Linked DNA regions of Homo sapiens: region 1 is linked to region 2. Evidence: fine-mapped QTL for protein levels in blood plasma. A gene starts in region 2. The other region holds a variant in brackets. All regions are shown on one strand. Distances are from middle to middle.

Region 1 (8,328 bases), 540 kb before region 2:
GTCTGATGCTACTTAGCCGCCAGGACTCACCAGGCAGCCTGTCTGTTAGTACTGATGAGCCATTCACAAGCCTGCTAGCTGAATGGATCTGAGAAGTTAGTTCTCACAAAAGAATAGGACAGTTGGAGAGTAACTTGAATGAGAATAACGGCAAAAGCATCATTATACACACTCCCTCTCTTCTTGGATGAAAATTGAGCCTTGGAAATCCAGTTCCAGGCCTCAGAGAAACCTAAGGATATTCCAACAGCCACACTATACTCCAGTTTCAAAAAGGTCTCGCTGTATGTTACCACTTTGCATAAGCTGAAATAAGTCAAAGTTCCTCTAAACTGCCAACGTCAACCACAACATTTTTCCAGGGAAGATAAGCAGGTTGGAGTATCACGTTGCACAAGCATGACTCTTAACGTGCCCACAACATCCATGCAATGTGCTCTCAGGGTGGCAGCTGCGGCTCCTGCACCCCTGTTGACAGGCGACCCCCATGGGTTCCCAGGGACTGGAAGTTTATTTGCATGAAGCTTATCAAGTTCCTTCTAACGTCCCCCAAACATATGTGCCCAGAACAAATTATGTATCGTCTCTGTCTTCACTGAGCTACACCCTGAAAACAGATGTCAACAACGAACGCTGCCTGGATGGGAAGCAGGGAGCAAAGTCCCCTTGGCTTCTGTCCCCATCAAAGCAGACGGGGGTGGAGAGAGAAAACAGTGACATTGAAGATTAAGGAAAAATTAGCCCAGGACCCTTTACCCTTTACTTTCTGAAGTGGGAGAAACAAGGCTAAAGGTGTAAGCCATCGCCCTTGACTTTTTCCCTTTGTTTAAGATTACTCAAGCGACTTGGTCACACTGGCAAAGGGTGTCTTTTTGCTTTCCCAACCATGGTTCTGCTTGGACAAATGCTGTTTCCTTCTCTGACGGCAAACGCCATGGGTGTTGATCAGAACCAGCCCGGGGGGAAGGGTCATGAATGGCGCTTCTGGAATTGATTAAAAGTCAGTGTCGCAGGGCGTACTGGCTCACGCCTATAATCCCAGCCCTTTGGGAGGTGGGTGGAACACTTGAGGTCAGGAGTTCAAGACCAGCCTGGTCCACATGGTGAAACTCTGTCTCTACCAAAAATACAAAAATTAGCCAGGCGTGGTGGCGCATGCCTGTAATCCCAGCTACTCGGGAGGCTGAGGCAGGAGAATTGCTTGAACCTGGGAGGCGGAGGTTGCAGTGAGTCAAGATTGCGCCACTGCCCTCCAGCCTGGGCGACAGAGCAAGACTCCATCTCAAAAAAAAAAAAAAAAGTCAGTGTTTAGGCCGGGTGTGGTGCCTCATGCCTGTAATCACAGCACTTTGGGAGGCTGAGGCAGATGGATCACCTGAGGTCAGGAGTTTGAGACCAGCCTGACCAACATGGTGAAACCCAATCTCTACAAAAATTCAAAATTTAAGCTGGGCATGGTGGTGGGCACCTGTAATCTCAGCCACTTGGGAGAGTAAGGCAGGAGAATTGCTTGAACCTGGGAGGTGGAGGTTGCAGTGAGCTGAGATCACGCCACTGCACTCCAGCCTGGGCAACAGAGAGAGACTCCATCTCAAAAAAATAAACAAACAAAATACATAGGCAGACGTCCCCACCTCCTTTGAGGGATTGCTTCAAGGATTCTTCCTCCAGTAAATCTTTAGCGAGCCCTTACTCTCTTTGTCAAGCATCATCCTAAGGCCTGAGAAATACAGCAATGGACAAAGCAAAGTCCCTGACCTCATGGGGCTTTCATTTCAATGTCAAAGAGATAATTAACAAGTAAATCAATAAGTAATCATGGTGGCTCATGCCTGTAATCCCAGCACTTTGGGAGGCCGAGGTGAGAGGATCACTTGGGCCCAGGAATTCAAGACTAGCCTGAGCAACATGGCAAGACCCCAACTCTACAAAAAATTAAAAATTAGCTGGGTGTGGTGGCGCGTGTCTATAGTCCCAGCTATTTAGGAGGCTGAGGCAGGAGGATCACCTGAGCACAGGAGGTCGAGGCTGCAGTGAGCTGTAACTGTGCCACTGCACTCCAGCCTGGGCGACAGATTGAGATGCTATCTCCAAAAAGAAAGAAAACGAAAAAAAGTATCAGGAATGAAAAGTGTAATAGAGAAATATAAGCAGGTAAGGAATTTCCAAGGGCTTTATGTGACAGGCAGGACAACTCACTAAATAAAGGACATTAGGGAATATTAGGGCATATTAGGGAATAAAGGGAAGTGAAAGAGACTGCCCCAGCTTGGAGCTGTGTGCTGAAGTAAGGGAGAGAGCAGGCGGCAGTGCGGGGGAACAGTTCCAAGGTCTACTCAAAGCCTGCACACCTACTGTGTGCATACCTCCTGCATGGGGGCAGCCTGTTCTAGTACTGAAGATCCAGCCACAATCACAACAGATAACCACTCCTGCCCACCCGGGGGCCAACATTCAAGTGGAATTAACATGATTTTAGCACAGGCCTATGAGAAAGGTTAGCTCTTGCTCCTGCGGGCCAGATTGCCTCATTGCCTCCCCATACCCCATACCCTTCTTGACAACAAGGCCAGAAGGGAACTTAGTTTTAAATCATTTTTCTTTCCAGGCCTCTCCCAGAGAGGACAGCAACAGCCAGTGTGCCCATTGATTAACAGCCTCACTCAGTTTCATCTCAATATTCCTGCCTGGATTGGTATCTGCTGCCTTGACTGGAGAAGCTGGGGTTGCTTCTCTGCTCAAGTCAAAACCAACTGCTTGGTTTCAATTTTCCAGAGTCAACACCAACTGGCAAGGAATCTCATCTCAATTTGTTTTCAAGAAGAGGGGAGAAAAACAACTCATCTCCATTCTAGCAAGGAGTTGGCAGCGACATTAGGCCTCCTGCAGAGGCGGAGGCTGGAGGGGGACTGCTTCCCCACCTGTCTTAGGGAGGGAAATGCGTTTGATTTTCTCAAAAAGAATAAGGAGAATGGGGAGGCCCTCTGGGTTCACAGCAAATTGGAGGGGCTTTCTTGTCCCAGCTGTGGCTGCATGCGTAACAACACAGCCTGTCTGCCGAAACAGAGGCCGTAACTGATCATTTTCATGGACTGCAACCCAGGAAACATTCCTGTGGTCAGGTTGGGCAACTCTAGGAACTGTTTGCTTACTGATTAAAAAGAAAATCATCACATTTTCTTCCTCCTTTTTCTTTCTGTTGGATTCCCCGAGGTTAGGGAGACCCCATGTACTGAATTCCAAAGCTACTAAATCCCTCCTCCTCTCTCTCCCTGATGCCCCGTGCAGGAAAGGGCAGCTGACAGGCCTGAGATGTGGGAGAACAAGTCCTGGGCCCTCACAGACATTGGTAAGGCTTACATTCCGACTGGTGAAATAAAGCATGCACCAAAATGCCTCCTAACATCATTTCCATTCAGGGTCTAATGTGCTGCACAGAGACTTTCCTGGGTTTTTTGTTTTTGTTTTTGTTTTTGAGATGGAGTTTTGCTCTTGTTGCCCAGGCTGGAGTGCAATGGTGTGATCTTGGCTCACGGCAACCTCTGCCTCCCGGGTTCAAGTGATTCTCCTGCCTCAGCCTCCCGAGTAGATGGGATTACAGGCATGCGCCACCATGCCCGGTTAATTTTGTAGTTTTAGAGATGGGGTTTCTCCATGTTGGTCGGGCAGGTCTCGAACTCCCAACATCATGTGATCCGCCCGCCTCAGCCTCCCAAAGTGCTGGGATTACAGGCATGAGCCACCGGGCCCAGCCTCCTGGGGCACTTTTTAAAAATACTCAGCCAGGGCCCCTGCCTCAGACTAACTGAATCCAGATGTCCAGGGCTGGGGCAGTAGCAACTAAGGAGTGAGGGATTTCTTCTGGAGGTGATGAAAATGTTATGAAATTGATTGTGGTGACGCTTGCTTAAGTCTGTGACTATAAGGGAAACTGTTAAATTCTACACTTTAAATGGTGTAATATATGCTATGTGGATTATGTTTCGATAAAGCTGTTACAAAAAAAAAAAAAAGATGAGCCAATCGCACAAAGTATTCACAAGCCCATCCTTGCAGAGAGACCACTGCTAACACCTGATATGTGTCCTTCAGATCCTGGTCTATATCCCTTTCCTAATTCATTTACTCCCTTGTCCTGCATCCCTTTACATCCTGTTCTCCAAAATTAGGTTCTGGACATTATTCTATTTTTAAACACCTGGCCAGGTGCGGTGGCTCACACCTATAATCCCAGCACTTTGGGGAGGCTGAAGTGGGCGGATCACTTGAGTCCAAGTCCCGTCAAGACCAGCCTGGGCAACATGGGGAGAGCCCATCTCTACAAAAAATACAAAAAAAAATTAGCTGGGCATGGTGGCATGCACCTGTAGTCCCCATTATTTGGGAGGGCTGAGGTAGGAGGATCACTTGAGCTGGGGACGTCAAGGCTGCAGAGAATCATGTTCGGGCCACTGCACTCCAGCTTGGGTGACACAGTGAGAACGGATCTTCCTGTCCAACTTTCTTTTATTTATTCATTCATTTTTTGAGACAGAGTCTTGCTCTGTCACCCAGGCTGGAGTGCAGTGGCATGACCTCAGATTACCGCA[A/G]CCTCCGCCTCCTGCGTTCAAGTGACTCTCCTGCCTCAGCCTCCCAAGCAGCTGGGATTACAGGTGCCCGCCACCATACCCAGCTAATTTTTGTTTTTTGTTTTTTTTAGGAGAGATGGGGTTTCTCCATGTTGGTCAGGCTGGTCTTGAACTCCTGATCTTGTGATCCACCCGTCTCGGCCTCCAAAAGTGTTGAGATTACAGGCGTGAGCCACCATGCCCAGCCCCAACTTTCTTCTTATTTCACATTTACCCATTTAAAAAAATGTGTAAATGTGGCTTATATACAGTCAACCCAAAAAGTAATTAGGATGGGTAAAATATGGTATAGCTACTCAGCAATAAAAAGGATCAAACATCACAAAACGCAGTAGCATAGATGAACCTTAAAAGCATTACACCGAGTGAAAGAAGCTGTTCACCAAAGTACACAGTTCATATGAAAAATCTAGAAAACTAGAGACAAAAAGCAGATCAAGGGTTGTCTGGAGCTGAGTTAGGCTTGACTACCAATAGGCCCAAGGGAACTTGGGAGGTGGTGGAAGTATTCTAAAACTGGATTGTGATGACAGCTCAACAGCTGTGTACGTTTATAAAAATTATCTAACTGTACACTTACAGTGGGTAAATTGTGTGGTATGTAAATTAAATCTCAATGAACCAGTAAGAAATATATAGCTATTAGGGTCTCTTGAGGAATACCCCATCAGTCAAAGTCCTATGGTTCAAAAATGAAAGAATCCAGGCACCCAAAAATGCCAAGGTTATGAAAAAGTGCAGAGAAGAGAAGCCATAAACAATTCTTAATTAACAGTAGGCTGGGTGCGGTGGCTCACACCTGTAATCCCAGCACTTTGGGAGGCCAAGGAGGGCGAATCACTTGAGGTCAGGAGTTTAAGACAGGCCTGGCCAACATGGTGAAACCTCGTCTCTACTAAAAATACAAAAAATTAGCGGGGCGTGGTGGCACATGCCTATAATCCCAGCTATTCAGGAGGCTGAGGCAGGAGAATTGCTTGAACCCAGGAGGCGGAGGTTGCGGTGAGCCAAGATCATGCCATTGTACTCCAGCCTGGGCAACAAGAGTGAAACTGTCTCAAAAAAAAAAAAAAAAAAATTAGCCGGGCGTGGTGGTGGGTGTCTATAATCCCAGCTACTTGGGAGGCTGAAGTGGGAGAACTGCTTGAACCCAGGAGGCAGAGGTTGCAGTGAGCTGAGATTGCACCATTGCACTCCAGCCTGGATGATAAAGCAAGACTCTATCTCCAAAAAACAAAACAAAACAAAACAATAGTTATAGGCTGGGCATGGTGGTTCACACCTGTAATCCCAGCACTTTGGGAGGCTGAGGTGGGAGGATCACTTGAGGCCAGGAGTTTGAGACCAGCCTGGGCAACATAGTAGGATCCCATCTCTATTTAAAAAAAAAAAAAATCAACAACTAAAAACTGAAAACAAAAAATCTTTTTGAGAGTAAATATTCACTATGACAGTCATTACGTGTGGGCACTGTGAACTTTACATTGACTCCTATGTTGCTGTGAGGCAGGTAGGGGTTTTTAACCCCCTTAATGCTGATGAGCAACTGAGGCGAAAGGCTTAAGTCATTTGCTCAAGGTCAGGGCCTTGTCAAGGTCACAGAGCAGGTCAGCCTCTGAAGGAACATTCGCCCCAGAACCAGCCAGCACCAAAGCTTCTGTTCTTCAGCACTAGGCTTGCGGAGGGAGAGAAATTCCAGGGGTAGTTAACAGCAATGTGGGATGGGTAAAAGTAACCACAGATTTATTCTCTATAAAAAACACAACCCAGATATAAACACGCATCAATCTAGGGCCACATTTTCCAAGCACTGGCTGACACCAAAATGTGCTGAATCTGGCTGCAAAAACACAGGAAAGCCGTTGTGGAATTCAGAACCTTTGAATCATTCAATAACTCAAGAACAAGATCTGGAAACCTTCTACAAAGAATGAATGTGAGGCTTGCACTACTTTCAAATGTGGGCTGTGCTGGAAAGGCTCGGACCCTCTGCCTCTGACCTTTGGAACAAAACTCAAACAGCCCAAGAGAACAGCTGGGAGCCAACACTGCGAAGTGAGGCATTTCCCACAGTCTCCAGGTCACATGTGCTTGCAGATGACTGTACAACAAGTGCTCACTTGTCCAATAGAGCTCACAAGAGGATGCCTTTTCTCTTTTAATGGATGCTAGCATCATTTTTCATTATCAAGAACAAATAAGCATTGATGGGAAAGGCAGCTGCTTCCAAGAGCATTTGCTGAATCTACTCTGGCTGCCTGGAAAGGTAACTGCTCAGACTATATGTGTGCCTTGGCTCAGGCTCCTGAGAAATGAAGCCTACAACCCATGCTGCATCCTCCTGAATACCAAAAAAAAAAAAAAAAAAAGAAAAAAAAAAAAAGAAAGCAGAAAGATCTCAGACTGGGGGGCTCACTTCAAGAATTCCAAGTAGGGTCAGGTGCAGGCTCAACCCTGTAATCCCCGCACTTTGGGAGGCCAAGGCATGTGGATCGCCAGAGATCAGGGGTTCGAGACCAGCCTGACCATCATGGTGAAACCCTGTCTCTACTAAAAATACAAAAACAAGCCAGGCATGGTGGCGGGCACCTGTAATCCCAGCTACTTGGGAGGCTGAGGCAGGAGAATCGCTTGAACCCAGGATGAAGAGGTTGCAGTGAGCCAATATCGCATCACTGCACTCCGGCCTGGGCGACAGAGCAAGACTCTGTCTCAAATTTGAAAAAAAAAGAATTCCAAGTAGGCAAAAATAATAAGAAAAGAAAAGAGCATGAAGAAGAGTGACCCACAGGTGCCAGAATCTGACTCTGGCATACACTGGAGAACAGCCACAGGTCACTCACAAGATGCTGTGGTACTGTTGCTACCACCACAAGGAGATGGGGCACCTGTTCCAGCAGTGGTTCTCCAGCCTTTTATTTTCCTGGTTGCTGCTCTTGCAGAAATGCTCCATGGGCCATTTACCTGGACTGTTCCCATTTTCCGATGTGAAACTGGAAAGCTTGCACACAAAAATGACGTATGTAAAAGGTTATTCACTAAGGCATTGTTTGTGCTAGCAAAACATGGGCGACAGCCCAAATAGCCATCAATAGAGGATTAGTTTAAATCAATTATAGAATTTCCTTACAATGAAATACTATGAACCTATTAAAAAAAAAAAAGCTCTTTATGCTCTGCAGGGGAATGATCGTCAAGACACATTATTGTTTGCTGATAAAAGCAAGTGCAAAGCAGTGCTATCTTTTGTGTAACTAAAAAGAAGGGGATAAGAAATAAGTTTATCCCTGTAATCCCAGCATTTTGGGAGGCTGAGGTGGGAGGATCACTTAAACCCAGGAGTTTGAGTCTGCAGTGAGCCACGACTGCACAACAGCACTCCAGCCTGAGCCACAGAACAAGACTCTGTCTTGGTCAGGCATAGTGGCTCACGCCTATAATCCCAGCACTTTGGGAAGCTGAGGTGGGTGGATCGCTTGAGGTCAGGAGTTGGAGACCAGCCTGGCCAACATGGTAAAACCGTGTCTCTACTAAAAATACAAAACTTAGCTGGGCATGGTAGTGCATGCCTGTAGTCTCAGCTTCTTGGGAGGCTGAGGGAGGAGAATCGCTTGATTCTGGGAGGCAGAGGTTGCAGTGAGCCGAGATCGCGCCACTGTACTCCAGCCTGGGCAACAGAGCAAGACTCCATCTCAAAGAA
Region 2 (8,328 bases):
CACTTGAGCTCAGGAGTTCAAGACCAGCATGGCCAACATGGTGAAACACCATCTCCACTAAAAATACAAAAAATTAGCCAGGCATGGTGGCGGGCACCTGTAATCCCAGCTACTTGGGAGGCTGAGGCACAAGAATCGCTTGAACCTGGGAGACGGAGGTTGCAGTGAGCTGAGATGGCGCCAGCCTGAGTGACACAGCAAGACTCCATCCCAAAATAAAAGAAAAAAAAAATTGTGTGTAGGCATGAGAGGCCAGGACTGGAGAGTAGAGGAACAAGGGCAGCAGGAAGGGAAAGTTAGTTCTGCCTGGGAGTGCAGAGGTGGTGCCAACCAGACCAGACCAGACCAGACCGAGGACCTGGGGAAGGAGAGAGGTCAGTGACCTCGAGATGAGGATAGAAGGAACAGACTCTGGAGGCCTCTCAGGCACTGTTGGTGAGCAGCACCCCCCTCTGTGTGCCCCAGCCCCCACCTGATATTGTCAATCCAGCAGTCAATGATGACAGGCAGCAGCAGTTCCAGGTTCAGCCAGATTGTGAAGTAGCTTTCGGTCTTCTTGGAGCAGAGGTAGTGCACCACTGTCGGCTTGTCCAGCTTGGCTTCCAGTTGGTTACCCAAATCACCAGGGACTGCAGGGGGCACAGGACATGTGTGAGCCCTCAGCCCGGCAGGTTCAAGACTCCCAAGAACTTTGATGTCTGCAGCAGACCCCCTGAAGAGCCACAGATAATATGGCAGACCTGTGCAGTTCCACATCTCAAATTAAAGCACAGTGCTGGTGGCAGGAAATTCAGAGAGCAGGGACCTTGACCCAAAGGCCAGGGAACCATCTTTGTGCAGAAAAGCTGCTACTGCTGTGTGGTGCAGAGATGCCTGTGGGGGGCTTGGGAGAGGCCTGACATGTTTGGGGAAGGGCCCTAACATTGTCTCCAACTCCAGATAAAGTAAGTCTCCTGGATTTTCACTGGAACATCCTCCTGGGCCATTCAGATTATTGGAAGGGGGTTCAGGGTGAAGTCACTCCCCACACTAGGCCTCAGTTTCCGTATCTGTTAAATGAGATCTTGGTCTGAATCACCCCCAGCAAACACAGACACACCTCTACACATGGTTTCTATGGTTAATGGACCCCGATGGGAGCTCTGCCTGGGAGGAGGGGCTTGGAGACCCCTTTGCATTCCAGAACCTCCAAAGTTTGGCCAAGGCCCTTGTCATTAGATATATACCTTCGAGGCAGGGCGCAGGGGCTCATGCCTGTAATCCCAGCACTTTGGGAGGCCGAGGTGAGTGGATCACTTGCGGTCAGGAGTTCAAGACCAGCTTGGCCAATATGGTGAAAGCCCATCTCTACTAAAAATACAAAAAATTACCTTGGTGTGGTGGCACACACCTGTAATCCCAGCTACTCAGGAGCCTAAGACAGGAGAATTGCTTGAACCCGGGAGGCAGAGGTTGCAGTGAGCCAAAATCGTGCCATTGCCCTCCAGCCTGGGTGACAGAGCAAGACCCGGTCTCAAAAAAAAAAAAAGATATATACCCTGGAGGCTTGAACCCAAAAGTCTTCCACCCATAGCTATCCCAGGCTACATAGAAGACAGGGTCCTGTTCGCCCTGAGAGAGGAAGAAGGAAACAGAACAGAGCCCTGGGCCACTCAGCTAAAATTCAACCAGACAAAGTATGCAGGACAGGCTGGTGGGAGGGAAATGAACAGAAACACAGCTGAGAGAAGCTTACATTGGCACCCGCCAGCCTACCAAGGGCCCAGGCCTTACTAAAGGCCAGAGTCCAGTAAGGTGCCAGAGAGCAGATCATCTGGAGGGCCCTAGCATGGCTGGGAGCCCGTATTGGAAACAGCCACCCTGAACCAGCACCATTATCACCACAGTCCAGGCCCTAGGGTGACTTCTCTCCATCCCAGCCATCCTATTCAGTGTACTCAGAACTCTGGGGCCCTGGTGACACCCAAATCCCTCCCCACTGCGTCAAAGCCCTTCACAGTCTCGTTACTCCCATTGACCTTTCGGGCCTCACCTGCCCCCACATGCCATGCTCTCGCCACTTCCCAAACACATCCCCGTTTAGGGTCCATGATCATTGAGTGAAAAACCAGCACTTGGCTCTCCTGGACATTCACTGGGAACTGACCGTAAATCCACCCTGAACAGGGCGTGCCCTCCCTGGGCACCATCCCAGTGTCTTCAGGGTGCCATGAGAGGCAGGGGCGGCACATGCCTTCACCTCCCTTCATGGTATGGGTGCAGAGGGAGGGAGTCCCTGTCATGACAGCCTCTGGATGACATGCCTGTGGACTGGGCAGGGCAGGGCAGAGACCCTGGTCACTGTCTCTACCAAAGGGGAAATGGTAAAAGAGGAAGTCACCAGATCTGCTTTGCTCAGATGCTCCTTACCCTGGTCAGGCTGTGTGGCCCCTAAAAATAGCAGTGGCCACTTCCTGAGCCCATCTGCGCCTGGAACTAGGAAAAGAGCCATCCACATGCCTTTCACCTCAAGTAACACTGGGAGGGGACAGCCTTACTATTTCCACTTAACAGATGGGGAGACTGAGGCTGCAAGAGGTGGAAATGGCCTTGCCTATGGTCCCTTCCCCTTGCCCAGGGTCTTCTGTATCACATCGCTGGTCTCTCTTTCCTCCACCACCATTTCAGGATCCACCCCTAGAGGATTCTGATCTTCTGACAGTCAAGGTCAGATCCCTGCTCTGTGCCCAGGAGCTGCTTATCCAACTGCCCACCGTGAGGTCTCCCAGGGCTAAGGCCAGCAGCCTCACTCCCTGAGAAGCTGGGCATGTTAGGACTCCTGCTGCTCTGTGATTCTGGGTGGGGTCTGAGGCTCTTCTGCTGTGACCAAGGATAAACAGACTGACTGAATTGATGAGTGCGGTTAGCATCAATCCAGGCAAAATGGCTATGTGCCATTTTGTGTGCCACAGACCACATGCTTCCTAATGCCACGCCCCTCAGACTTAGAACTCTGCAGGCCAACCCAGGACTCCCTGAGGCCCTCAAGATAAAGTTCAGATGACCCAACCAGTCACAAGTCCTGTGCAGTCCACTCCTCCTGTGACTCGATCCCAGGCAGCCTGAGATGCTCACGTCTCTCCCCGACCCATTACTCTCTCCTGGCCTTAGCTCCAGCTATATACTCCAGGAAGCCTTACTTGACACCCACCCATCCAGGCTGGGTTGGTGGATTCTCTGTGCTTGCCCCACACAGACTTCCTCTCTGGGGATCACTGTTATTCCTATCCTGCAAGCTTTGGGGAGGCAGGGCCAAGTCTGCCCAAATCCCATGGTGAACCTGGGCCTAGTATCCCCCTGGAGCTTTTCCTGGCTGGGAACTCCTGGTGGGGCCTGCCTGGCACCACCCTACCTGCCAACTCTACCCTTCTGTGATTTGCATCGTCCCCATTTAAAGTACTCTCAGCAGAAAGAGCATGGAGATCATGCTGCACTAGACTCCACGTGTAATTCATGCCTCAGATGCCTCTGCTTTCAGGAATCCTGGCTGGCCACGGACACACCAGCTCTGGATGGGAGTGACGGCCTCAATGAGGCACCCAAGGCCCCCCAGACAGAGGTCTCATCCCTGCCCATCCCTGCAAGGAAATACAGTGGCCGTTGTAGAGTTGCCAGGGTTGTGATCAAGGAGCGGGGTGAGCAGGGGAGGTCACCGAGCCTCCACATAGTCTAGTCCAAGCATGTGTGGCAGGGTAAGAGTACAAGCATGTTGCCTGACACAGGTTCATGGCCATTGTCCCAACCCTTTCCCCTGACTTCAGTTGTCTTCAGTTTCCCTTAGGCCTTTTCCCTCAGGCAATGCCACACATCTGATAAGTTGTGGGAGTTGGTGGCCAGCTAGGACAGCAATCCTTTCCCTAAGGAGGTTCCTTTCAGCAATGCCTTCTGGCATATGTGGCATTGGAGGGGTCGAGGGTGACAGCCTCCTAACCAGGCCCAGGTCGATGCAGAAGTCAACTCAGGAGCCACTCTACACACCCCCACCATCCCTCAGGAGTGGGGCTGAAGCACCTGTCTTTCCAGCTTAAAAATGGGATAAGGGGAGGCAAGGCTTGGGAATGATGCGGACAGGTGGAACTATGAATAACCAGATGGTAACTCTCCCACTCACCCCCATTTTCTACCAGGACAGGAGGTGGGGAGCTGACCACACCCGCGCCCAGCATGGCGGGAGGTGAGCCGGCAGATCTAGATCACCTAAGTGACAAGACAGATACCAATACGCTCCCCCATTTCGTGACTGGAACAGAAGCAGACCGGGAAGGCAGCCCCGCCCGCGGCCCGTCCCGCCCGACCGACAGATCCACCACGAGACCCGTGCCTCACCCAGCACCACTGGGGGGTGACGTCCGGCCGGGAGCGCTGGGTCCGCGAGCAGCATTAGCAGCAGCAAGAGGAACAGGAGGCCATCCGGGAGCAGCCCCACACGGTAGGGGCGGAGGTGGAGGCCCATGGTGTACGACGGTCGCCGCAGGTCCGGGATGCAGGTTCAGCTCTCTGGGCTCTCGCCTAGGCGGGGGCGGTGGCGACGCGCTTAACCCCGCCGCCCGCATCCCCCGCATCCCCCCGGCCAATCAGGGCCCGCCTCCCGCAAATGGCTGGCCAATAGGGACTCGCCGCCATATACGCCCCTCCCAGTCGGAGGTCGCCGCCCCGCCCTTGCCCAACCCCCTGCTTCCTGGACCACGCTGAGCGCCGAGCGCATCGATGGATCGAGGTATCGCCTGGCTCCGGGCTGTCAGTCGCCCACCCGGGAACCCAGCTCGCCGCTGCTGTACCCCGCCCAGCCCTGGGTACCCGAAATCCACGCTGCGCAGCTCTCACTTGGCGACCCCCTGACCTGGAGGATCTGGAACGGACAAGACCGGGAGAGGATAAGGGGTGCAGCGCTGGCCGCTGCTGAGCGACCCCGGTTAAAGCAAGAAGAGAGGAAGTGAGTCCCGGACAGTTCTTGGGCCTCAGGTGACCAGGAGCTGACCAGGACCTTTGTGCAGCCCCCACACCAATTCTTAGCACACCCTGCCCCGAGGGCACCTGGGTGCGGCCAGTCAGCCCCTGTAACTCTGCCCCGGGGTTACAGATGCGGGGGGAACCGGGAGAGGCCAGGTCAGCATGTTCAGTTCCCAAGAGAGGGGTTAATCTGTTCGTTTTAGGGGCGCAGAGTGCAGCGTCACCCCGCCAGTCCGGGCAGTTCGGGCGCGGGGTTGGGAGTGGGCTTGAGTCTCGACCCTGCGCCATGGGCCATCTGCAAGTTCCCCTGCAGAGCAGGAGAGGCATCGGGAGCTCGTGGTCCCCCTCCACTCTCGCAAACCTGGGGAACCAGAGAGGACATGGACTCCCTGCGCCAGGAAGCAGGGGCGAACAGAGTGGGCAAAGACCTGACAGCTGGTTATATGCCAGCACCATAGGTCACTGTGGGATAGAGGGACGAGAGTATTTGGGAAATAGAGGTCTTGATCCTCCACACACCCACCCCTTCGAAGGGGCAGCTGCACCCTGGTCATCCCACCTGGTCCCAAGAAATTTGTCCTGCCCCTTCCTTCCTTCTTCTTGGTAAGCAGCTGACCTGGCTATGAAGCCACTATCTTGCCCTGCCCTTCTCGAGTTCTTATAGTGAAACATGTTGGTGACTGGGCTACCACCACCCTCCCTCTTTCTTTTTTCTTTTTCTTTTTCTTTTTTTTTTTTTTTTTGAGACAGAGTTTCGCTCTTGTTGCCCAGGCTGGAGTGCAATGGTGCAATCTTGGCTCACCGTAACCTCCGTCTCCCGGATTCAAGCAATTCTCCTGCCTCAGCCTCCCGAGTAGCTGGGATTGCAGGCATGCGCCACCACCCTGGCTAATTTTGTATTTTTAGTAGAGACGGGGTTTCTCCATGTTAGTCAGGCTGGTCTTGAACTCCCAACCTCAGGTGATCCACCTGCCTCGGCCTCCCAAAGTGCTGGGATTACAGGCGTGAGCTACTGTGCCCGGCCCCTTTTTCTTTTCTTTCCTTTTTTTTTTTTTTTTTTTTTTTTTTTTGAGAAAGGGTCTCTCTGTCACCCAAGTGCAGTAGCACAATCACGGCTCACTGCATCCTTGACCTCTCAGGCTCAAGCAATCCTTCCCACCTCAGCCTCCTGAGTAGCTGGGACTACAAGTGTACACCTCCAAGCTCAGCTAGTTTTTTATTTTTTGTAGAGTTGGGGTCTCACTATGTTGCCCAGGCCAGTCTTGAACTCCTGGCCTTAAGTGATCCACCTGCCTCAGCCTCCCAAAGTGCTGAGATTACAGATGTGTGCCACTGTGACCAGCCCCACCCTCTCTTAAGGTCCAGCCATCTCCCGCTAAGGCCCTGGCTCAGAACTCCCACTCCCAAAGCCCCTGCCTCCCCCACCTTCACCCGTGACCCAACAGAAGATCAGTGAAGACCCATCTGGTGAAAACCCAGCGTGGGAGACCAGAGACTCTTCTGCAGGCCTAGGGACGGGCAGAAGTCCAGTCAAAGGTTATGTGGAGGAAGAGAAGGATCAAGAGGTGCTGGGCCACCTTGGACTCTGGCCACAGTCTAAATGTCTTGCCAGCCCAGCAGCATCCGGTGACCATGGGCCCCTGGAAGGGTAGCCCTGTCCTCAAGAGGGGTTCCTTGGTGCTTCAACCCCACAGGCCCTGCATGTGTTAGGAACCACAGCCATTAGGGGCAGGATGGCAAGGCCTGGTCAGCAATGACCCATGCTGGCACTGTGGAGAAGGGTCAGAAAGTGAGGGTCCTCCCTTTTCACAATGACTCTGCCATCCACCTGATCCCCCAGGCTGCAGACTTGGCATCATCCTGAGCTCTGGATGCTTCCATGCTTCTCAGAACCACAACTCAGGTGGTCATAAGGGCTTGCCAGCTCTACACTCCCCAAACCACACTACCCTATTCCCACAACAGCCTCGTCACTGATGTCCCAATGCACGCCCTCGTTCCTGTGGGTCGTTCTCCACATGCCAGGCTGACACCTTTTTTTTTTTTTTTTTGAGACAGAGTTTTGCTCTGTCACCCAGGCTGGAGAGCAGTGGCGTGATCCCGGCTCACTGCAACCTCTGCCTCCTGGGTTCAAGCGATTCTCCTGCCTCAGCCTCCTGAATAGCTGGGATTACAGGCACCCGCCACCACGCCCAGCTGATTTTTGTATTTTTTAGTAGAGACGGGATTTCGCCATGTTGGCCAGGCTGGTCTTGAACTCCTGACCTCAGGTGATCCACCCACCTAGGTCTCCCAAAGTGCTGGGATTACAGGTATGAGCCATCACACCCGGCCCTGATTTTTTTTTTTTAATATTGCTCAAATTACTATCTCAAATTGTATGGTTTGCCCTACAAACCATAAATTCTCATTAGATGGGTTTTATTTAATCCTATATATCGGAACTTACTTTGCAATCTGACTCTGGCATAACATTAGGTGACAAGAAAGTCAAAATATTCCAAAACAATGTTTCTTTGCCATACTTGGAAATGGTCCTGCAAAACTGTCCTTTGTGGAGGAAATTTTGCATCTGTAAAGAATCTCTATTAACATAGCTAGATTTTCTTCCAGGCCCTCCCAAACCTGAAGAGATTAAGAGTTTAGCACCTTTCACAGGTCTGAATAGGGCCGGGCACAGTGGTTCACGCCTGTAATCCCAACACTTTGGGAGGCCGAGGTGGGTGGATCCCCTGAGGTCAGGAGTTTGAGACTAGCCTAGCCAATAAGGCGAAACCCATCTCTATAAAAATAGAAAAATTAGCTGGCCGTGGTGGCGGGCACATGTAGTCCCAGCTACTCGGGAGGCTGAGGCAGGAGAATCACTTGAACCCGGGAGGCGGAGGTTGCAGTGAGCCAAGATCATGTCACTGCACTCCAGCCTGGGAGACAGAGCAAGACTCCATCCAAAAAAAGCGTCCAGGCTGGGCATGGTGGCTCACACCTGTAATCCCAGCACTTTGGGAGGCCGAGGCGGGCGGATCATGAGGTCAGGAGATCGAGACCATCCTGGCTAACACAATGAAACCCTGTCTCCACTAAAAATACGAAAAATTAGCCAGGCGTGGTGGCAGGTGCCTGTAGTCCCAGCTACTCGGGAGGCTGAGGCAGGAGAATGGCGTGAACCTGGGAGGCGGAGCTTGCAGCGAGCCGAGATCGCGCCACTGCATGCTAGCCTGGGTGACAGAACGAGACTCTTGTCTCAAAAAAAAAAAAAAAGTGTCCAAATATTTTACAGAGTTTGACTCTTTTCATCAACAGAATAAATCCAGAGACTTAGGAGCCAGTCTAGTTGTGCTA

Alleles and levels. Alleles are on the strand shown, and positions count from the first base shown. The strength of an association depends on the size of the effect and on how common the allele is.
With allele A in place of G in region 1, the plasma level of the protein whose gene starts at base 4,546 in region 2 is lower (weak association).

What was found. PIP is the chance, under the fine-mapping model, that this variant and not a neighbour inherited with it causes the effect. Protein levels are from antibody-based Olink assays in UK Biobank. Linkage for the fine-mapping came from a reference panel and not from the study's own genotypes, which makes the PIPs less certain.
Region 1: its variant is fine-mapped to the plasma level of the PLA2G15 protein (UK Biobank, PIP above 0.99).

Annotation. Positions count from the first base shown.
Region 1 is chr16:68,785,204-68,793,531 of GRCh38, reverse strand. The region is part of intron 2 of CDH1 (cadherin 1); the gene reads right to left. Among named protein-coding and RNA genes, the nearest start is that of CDH1, 52 kb to the right of the region's middle. RefSeq lists cis regulatory regions at 1,326, 6,717 and enhancers at 1,254-1,398, 1,533-2,102, 6,645-6,789. The variant A/G (reference allele first, on the strand shown) is at 4,590.
Region 2 is chr16:68,241,591-68,249,918 of GRCh38, reverse strand. It overlaps PLA2G15 (phospholipase A2 group XV), which reads right to left and starts at 4,546. Exons shown (of 6, transcript NM_012320.4): 1 at 4,366-4,546; 2 at 473-629. The coding sequence starts at 4,492. RefSeq lists enhancers at 3,580-4,080, 5,202-5,740 and a silencer at 4,497-4,726.